2 separate regions of the Homo sapiens genome follow, and region 2 is linked to region 1. Evidence: fine-mapped expression QTL. Tissue or cell type: whole blood. Region 1 holds a variant in brackets; the other region holds the start of a gene. All regions are shown on one strand. Distances are between the middles of the regions.

Region 1 (4,290 bases):
ATCATGAGTCACCTTGGGCCCCACCTGAACGTGGTCAACCTGTTGGGGGCCTGCACCAAAGGAGGTACCGAGCCCACTGCCCCAGAGGCCTCAGGGAAAGTGCCCACCACCAAGGCCAGGCCCCGCCTACCCCCCCCTCAGGCCTTGCACAACAGCACACTCCTGCTGGAGGGTCCGTGCCCACCCGCTCCAGCGCCCTCACTGCGCGGTCCCAGAGGGCGGTGGGGTTTAGAAACTCACAAAATCACAACACCTTCAAGGCTGAAGGATTAGTCAGGTCACCAGTCCCAGCAGCTTCCAGACCATGGTGTTGGCTGACACTTTTTTATTTTCCCAATACATTTTGAAAACCAATAAATAACAGCTCACATGACATTAAGATGAGTTATATGCCCACCATTGGAGACCACCAGCTTGCTACTTGGGAGCTACCTTCATTTGATCATAGAAGAAAGTCTCTGTGGCCAACTGGGTCTATTTGAAGCTCTGATTGCCAGTTAGGCTGAAAAAAAATGTTATCACCATTTGCAGCTGCTTATTGTGAGATTTGGGATTTTCCTCAGCATTATGCAACCAAAATAAAATACAGAAGTATGTTGGGTACATAGACTTATTCACGTTTGCAATGATCGCTCATTTCAACATTTTCGTTTGTGTAGATATCTTCAAGTTCTCACTGATTGACTTTAAGTAAATGCATTGTAGTTGAATTTAACTACTAAAGTGATCGTTGTAAACAGTGGCCTTTATCTGCTTTCTATACTGGGCTCCAAAGTAAGCTTTAGTTTGAAAACATATCAATAAGAGCCAACACTGCGAGCTCGCCACGTGCCCAGCCAATAAAGACATCATCTCATTAATCCTCATGACAGTGCTTTGTGGTGGGTTTAATTAGCCCCACTTAACAGCTGGGGAAGGTAAGGCTCAGGGAGACTAAGTACCTTGCTCTCCACCACAGAGGCAGGAAAAGAATCCAGATTTGCAAGGCACTAAAGCCTCCTAGCCGTCATGCCAAAGTGTCTCTCCCACATCCAGCCCCTGATTAGCCTCATGGCCTTGAAGGGACGCCTGAGGCCTCCATAGGGACTGTCCCTGAGCCTGTCCCTCTGCAGGACCCATCTATATCATCACTGAGTACTGCCGCTACGGAGACCTGGTGGACTACCTGCACCGCAACAAACACACCTTCCTGCAGCACCACTCCGACAAGCGCCGCCCGCCCAGCGCGGAGCTCTACAGCAATGCTCTGCCCGTTGGGCTCCCCCTGCCCAGGTACCAGGAGGGAGGCCAGGGACTGAATCTTTGGGATACCTGAGGAGCACCGCTCCTTCCCCTCCTTTTGTCCAGGAGGGGAAGCTGAGGCTGTGACAGGGCAGGGGACAGAATCACTCCTGGAGCTAGGGCTGTTCCACAAGATGGTCCACCCCAGATGAGGGAATAACACTAATGCCAGGCCCTGTGCTGCTAAGCCCTCTACAGATGTGACATGCCATCCCTGTGTCGTGGGTGTTTGCCCTTCAGTCCAGGGCAGGCAGTGATGGAGGAAGGGGCAGAGGCTGTGGTGAGATGAGAGCCAAGCCTCCCAATTTGCACAGTGGTGCTCCAGGCTGTGTTCCTCTCTGCAGCCTCTACACATCAGCCTCCACACTGCCTCTCAGGGAGCTCAACTCCAGTCTTTGTCTTTTCCAAAAAGAACACTTCTTAGTTCTGTTGCTGATTACAAAAACAAAGACAAGAGTAGCTTCAGAAAAGCGTAAAAGACCTTAAAACCCACTCATGTCCTCTCCAATGTTTTGACATTCAGTCTCCCAGGAGCCAAAGGGCTTCTCCCATCTTTTTCCTGCCTATAGAGACAGATGTGTGTAGAGCCCCACAGCTCTTTGGGGAGCTGATGCTACAGGCATAGGTAGCGGGGTGAATCCTGGCTGCCTATGCTGGGTTGCAGTCAGGCACTCCCATGGCCAGGTGGCGCTGGGGAGGCCACAGGAAGGCGCCTCTGAACACACCCGTCTTGTGACCTTTGCCCTGGGGTGCTGTAATCGCCTCTGGGTGTGAGCTCTCTGGGTTCTAACT[G/A]TCATTTTGGTAGCCTCAGTGCCCAGCTTGGCCCAGCAGGTTGGTTGAAAAGTCTTGATCCACAGGCTTTCCTACTGGGATAGACTGAAGGAAGATGAGTGAGTGTGTGAGTGAGAGAAGAAATTCATGAGTGGCAAGGGGCAGGAGGGGAGGGGAAGGCAAAGCCTGCAGGCTCTCCTGTGATGCTCCTTTACCCCCAGCCATGTGTCCTTGACCGGGGAGAGCGACGGTGGCTACATGGACATGAGCAAGGACGAGTCGGTGGACTATGTGCCCATGCTGGACATGAAAGGAGACGTCAAATATGCAGACATCGAGTCCTCCAACTACATGGCCCCTTACGATAACTACGTTCCCTCTGGTGGGTGGACATAGTGACATAGTACCCCACATCCAAACAGGCTGATGCTCTTCACATGCCCAGCCTTGCCAAAAACCCTGAGAAGAAGGGAGCCTCGTGCCCATTTCATAGATGTAGAAATTGAGGCTAGCCACCTGGCCAAAACTGATCTGTAGTGGACCCCTAAACGGAAGCCCTGTTTATGGATCCGGAAACATGCGTAGAACCCTCAGGGAGGGAGAGAGCAGGGATATGGGAGGACCTGGCCTTTTGTCGTGGTAGGGAAAGTGATCTACTCAGCTTCAGCCCCAGGCTGGTCTAGTGTCCCTGAGAGGCAGGCAGGCAGGCCAGGCTGGGCAAAAGTGGCCCAAGGGCTAATGCCAAAAGGCCAATGAGGGCACTGATAAAGCAGGAGAACTTTGAGTTTGATATTAAGAAATCATTCTCCTTTTAGGGGAGACCTAGACGATCAGTAGCCACCTGTCTTGGACATTCAGTCTCCCAGGAGCCAAAGGGCAGGGGTCCTGTGGGCCAGAAGGAGATATAAGATAGCAGGTGACCCTCTGCTTCTCCTCTAGCCCCTGAGAGGACCTGCCGAGCAACTTTGATCAACGAGTCTCCAGTGCTAAGCTACATGGACCTCGTGGGCTTCAGCTACCAGGTGGCCAATGGCATGGAGTTTCTGGCCTCCAAGAACGTACGTGTGGTGTTGGTGGGGCAGAGTGGGGGCTGTGGGGAGGTGGGTCACCCAGCCAGCCAGCATCCTCCAAGAGCACACCAGGGTGGCCTCTCGCACATGGGCAGTGTTGTATTTTCCCAAAGCCCTTGACATGAAGGGTCTTTCCCCACAATTGTCCCCAAGGCCTCAGCTCCCCTCTCCCCAAACCCAGTGCGTCCACAGAGACCTGGCGGCTAGGAACGTGCTCATCTGTGAAGGCAAGCTGGTCAAGATCTGTGACTTTGGCCTGGCTCGAGACATCATGCGGGACTCGAATTACATCTCCAAAGGCAGCGTGAGTACCTTCCCTGGCCCCTGCAGGGCAGTCACAGTGCCTGTGACCGCAGGAACAGATTCCCTCCTGACCAGTGTGGCTGCAGCTCATAGGAAATCTGTGTGGGGCTCCTTGTGGCCTGCCCTGACAGCAGTGATGGGCTGTGCCTGCCCAGCTATGTGTGCAGGGACAGGATGGGGAGCCGCCCAGGAGTGCATGGAGCAAGTATAGCGGCGGGGAGGGCTGGCTATAATGGGTCCAGGGTGGGGGAAGGGGGAACAGGCCGAATGTGTTGTTCCAGTGGTGGTGGGCAGAGGAAGAAGCCCAGGTGACAGGGCAAGAAAGATGAGCAGGTCACATGCAGTAGCAGGGATTGGTCTGGTTAAAACGTGATCATCCTGCCTGTCTCTCATCTCCCCACTTTTCCGCAAACCCCAGATGGAGGGACGCTAGGCCCAGAGATCAAAGGCAGCCAGGATAAGAGCTTGGGGGGTGCCTTGACAAGTCCCTGGCTCCCACACTTCACTACTCAGACCCTGGGGCTTTTCCCCAGGGACAGGGGCTGCCTTGTCCCCAGCTAGTGAGAAAGGAAACAGCCTCTGGTCCTCTGACCAGCCCTGGGATGGACATGGGAACTGTGCTGCGCAGAGACCAGGGCCCTCACAGGGAATGGGACGGAGAAGTGGTTGTGGGTGGGAGCTGCCAGATACCCTCCTCCCATCCCAGGTGCAGAGTGGGGCTGAGGTCCTTCCTTGCACTCAGCACCTGTCCTGACCTCCCTACAGACCTTTTTGCCTTTAAAGTGGATGGCTCCGGAGAGCATCTTCAACAGCCTCTACACCACCCTGAGCGACGTGTGGTCCTTCGGGATCCTGCTCTGGGAGA
Region 2 (4,148 bases), 36 kb after region 1:
TAGCTTGAACGCGGGAGGCAGAGGTTGCAGTGAGCCGAGATTGCTCCACTGCACTCCAGCCTGAGTGACAGAGTGAGACCCTGTCTCAAAAAAGAAAGAAAGAAAGAAAAAAAAAAAAAGATTTGGTTTGCTAGTACATTTTTGAAAATTTTTGCTTTCTATATTCATGCATTTGTATTGGTCTGTAGTTATCTTTTCTGGCAATGTCTTGGTCTAGCTTTGGTACCAGAAAAATGCTGGCTTCATAGAATGAGTTGAAAAGGATTGGTATTAATTCTTCTTTAAATGTTTGGGAGAATTCACCAGTGAAGCCATCTGGTCCTGGGCTTTGCTTTGTCGGGAGGTTTTTGATTACTGATTAAATTTCTTTTCTTGTTATAGGTTTATTTGGATTTTCTTTTTCTTCTTGAGTCAGCTTTGATTGACATTCATGATTGCTAAAGGTTCAAAACACTTTTCTGAAAAAGAAAGTACATATATACACTCATAAATATACATACAAACACACACATACACACCACACACACACCTGAGTACACGGGAATGATCATTTTCCTGGATCAATGTTATATCAGGATTTTTCAATTTCAAGAAGGAACTTTAGGCTGGGTATAGTGGCTCATACCTATAATCCCAGTACTTTGGGAAGCCAAGGTATGCGAATCACTTGAGCTCAGGGGTTTGAGACCAGCCTGGACAACATGGTGAAACCCCATGTCTACCAAAAATACAGAAATTTGCTAGGAATGGTGGCACATGCCCCTGTAGTCCCAACTACTCAGGAGGATGAGGTAGGAGGATGGCTTGAGTCCGGGAGGTGGAGGTTGCAGTGAGCCGAGATCACACTACTGCACTCCAGCCTGGGTGACAGAACCAAACCCTGTCTCAGAAAAAAAAAAAGAAAAAAAGAAGAAGAAATGACCATGTTCTTTAGAGATAAGAAGTAAAATACTAAGCGAATCAACTAAAAGAGGTAAAAGCAATTGCCTCCAGGAAAAGAGGGAGCAAAGGAATGCTATATATTTTAAGAATTATGCAGAACAATTAGATTCTTTGTAAAAATAAATAAACAATGTAAGTAACGCACAAAAGATAGTTTTATAACCAGACTGCTGGGATCCAAATCCTATCTCCACCATTTGGTAGCTGTTTGACTATGGACAAGCTTAAGGCATTTGATCTCTCTGAGCTTTAGTTTTCCCATCTGTGAAATGAGAATGACAATAGTACTTACCTACATAAAGTTTTGCAGTACTAAAGGAGACAGTGAATGTAAAAGGTTTGGCTAGTAAATGTCCTGTAAAAGGAAGCTTATTGCCAATATTATCAGGCTCTCCCAGACCAACCTGTATACAGGAAGAAAACAAACTCCGTTTCTCCTATAGTCTCACAACACAAAATACTTCTGACCCCAGATGTAGAGGATGGGGCATATTTCCCCATACACCAAGCAATCAACCAATTGTTCAGATTCTGCAGCAGACACGAATCTGGTGCCCTCCGATTCAATTTGAACACTATATTTACCTAGAGATAACGTCAGATCTCACAGCTTGAAGGCTTGAGCCAGGAGTTTGAGGCTGCAGTGAGCTATGATCGAGCCACAGAGCTCCAGCCTGGGCAACAGAGTGAAACTGCGTCTCTAAAATAATAATAATAAATTTTTAAAAGATATGCATTACTTTGGAGATTCCAAGGATTTTAGGAGTTGTAAGCCAGGACATCAGGGTAAAGAAAAAATATATATGTCACAATATCATGCAACCTAACTTCTCTTTGGGATCTGCCAGAGCCACCTGATCACTCTGAAGACCCTCATTTGTGCTACTGACTAACGGTCTGGCTGCTCTTGGACATGTCTCTTCTCCCAAGACCCCTTGAAGATGGCTTTAGAAGGGCCCCAAACTTAGCTAGCTCCCCCCAAGCTCAGGCTGGCCCTGCCCCAGACTGCGACCCCTCCCTCTTGGGTTCAAGGCTTTGTTTTCTTCTTAAAGACCCAAGATTTCCAAACTCTGTGGTTGCCTTGCCTAGCTAAAAGGGGAAGAAGAGGATCAGCCCAAGGAGGAGGAAGAGGAAAACAAGACAAACAGCCAGTGCAGAGGAGAGGAACGTGTGTCCAGTGTCCCGATCCCTGCGGAGCTAGTAGCTGAGAGCTCTGTGCCCTGGGCACCTTGCAGCCCTGCACCTGCCTGCCACTTCCCCACCGAGGCCATGGGCCCAGGAGTTCTGCTGCTCCTGCTGGTGGCCACAGCTTGGCATGGTAAGAGCAGAACGGGGGGTGGGGGACTTTGTTGGGGTGTGATGGAGAAGACCCCTGTGAAAGGATTCAGTCCTTGCCCCTCACTGGGTGTCCTCAGGCTGTTTTAGTCTCCCCAACACTGGACTGCAGGCTTGTGGGTATCTGCTTTGGAGAGGTAGTGGGGTGAAAAGAGATGGGTGTGGTGGAACTGGTCCACCTGGTGCTGTGGATCTGTCCCAGCTCTGCCAGCGACTCACTGTGTGTCCTGAGCAAGCCTCTGATACTCTTGAGGCTTCAGTGTCCACTTCTATTCAATTGCAGGTGTTGGGGGCAGGGGGACAGTGATAGACTAGACCAGAGCAGTGCTTTTCATACTTTCCTGTGCATACAAGTTACCTGAGGATTTTGTTACAATGCAGATTCAGACTCAGTCGGTCTCAGGTGCGACCTGAGATTCTGTATATCCAACACACTCCTGGGAGATGTGAGATGCCGGCACTGCTGGTCCAGACCTACACTGAGTTGGGAGGACCTGGAGAGCTCCTGATGGCTCTGGCAGCTCTGCCAGCCTGTGATTCGATGATTCTATGCAAGATCTGATTTGGAAGGGCCTGATAGGGGTGGTGGTTCTTCCTTGGGTGGCTTGTGTAAGGGGTCAGAGGGGAGAGACAAGAGGTTGGCCTCTCTGGCCCAGGGCTCAGGAGAGGGGAATTCGGGGTGAAATAGGTATAGGGCTAGAGGAGGGATTGGGAAGAGGCCAGTGAGGGTCTCCTGGACCAGAGCCCTCCCAGACACAGGCTGCCAAGTCTCAGGAGGTCCCCAGGCTGTAGCAGTTCTGCAGAATTTCCATCTGGGAGGGAACATGACTAGAGGTGAGGGGCTGCTGTGCTTGGCTTGTTGGCCCAACAAACACATTTCTATTGCCTGCTTATTCAAAGGGACCTTGGGGGAGGATGGGGATTGAAGGGGAGAAAGGACAGCCTCATACTGGCCTCTTCACAGAAGGACCCTAAGGCCGTGGCGCTTCTGGTCCCTGATGAGGAGGAGATGGCCCACTGACCATCCTTCTCTGGCCCAGGCAATCACACTGAGCTTGAGTATTTGGGTTTTTTTTTTTTTTTTCCTGAGACAGAGTCTCTCTCTGTCACCAGGCTGGAGTACAGTGGCACAATCTCGGCTCACTGCAACCTCCACCTCCCGGGTTCAAGTGTTTCTCCTGTCTCAGCCTCCCAAGCTGGGATTACAGGCATACACCATCATGACTGGCTAATTTTTGTATTTTTAGTAGAGATGGGATTTCACCATGTTGGCCAAGCTGGTCTCGAACTCCTGACCTCAGGTGATCCACCTGCCTTGGCCTCCCAAAGTGTTGGGATTACTGGTGTGAGTCACGGCGCCCGGCCTGGACTTCTTATTTTGCAATGTAACTTACATGCAGTAGAAAGCACAGGTTCTTAAGTTCAATGAGGTCTGACAAATGCACACACAGTGTACCCGCCACCCCCTTCATCTCAGAGAGTCCCACAGGTTTGATTTCACTGCCTTGTCCTATCCTTACACCCACAACCTGCCTGTGGGGCAAAAACGGAAAAGTATCTGAGCCAGGTCTCAATTTAATTTTATTTTTTTTATTGAGATGGAGTCTTGTGGCCAGGCATGGTGGCTCACACCTGTAATCCCAGCACTCTGGGAGGCCGAGGCGGGTGGATCACAAGATCAGGAGTTTCAGACCAGCCTCGCCAATATGGTGAAGCCCCCTCTCTACTAAAAAATACAAAAATTAGCCGGGTGTGGTGGTGGGTTCCTGTAGTTCCAGCTACTCAGGAGGCTGAGGTGGGAGAATCACTTGAACCCGGGAGGCAGAGGTTGCAGTGAGCTGAGATCATGCCACTGCACTCCAGCCTAGGCG

The links. PIP is the estimated chance that this variant, and not a neighbour inherited with it, causes the effect.
Region 2: CSF1R starts here. The variant in region 1 is fine-mapped to the expression of CSF1R in whole blood (TOPMed, PIP above 0.99).

Annotation. Positions count from the first base shown.
Region 1 is chr5:150,120,024-150,124,313 of GRCh38, reverse strand. PDGFRB (platelet derived growth factor receptor beta) reads left to right here. Exons shown (of 23, transcript NM_002609.4): 14 at 1-64; 15 at 1,113-1,272; 16 at 2,274-2,434; 17 at 2,992-3,110; 18 at 3,304-3,426; 19 at 4,191-4,290. Among named protein-coding and RNA genes, the nearest start is that of PDGFRB, 34 kb to the left of the region's middle. RefSeq lists an enhancer at 2,999-3,906. The variant G/A (reference allele first, on the strand shown) is at 2,074.
Region 2 is chr5:150,084,491-150,088,638 of GRCh38, reverse strand. CSF1R (colony stimulating factor 1 receptor) reads left to right here and starts at 2,085. Exons shown (of 21, transcript NM_001288705.3): 1 at 2,085-2,260. The coding sequence starts at 2,212. RefSeq lists an enhancer at 1,998-2,027 and a promoter at 1,780-2,212.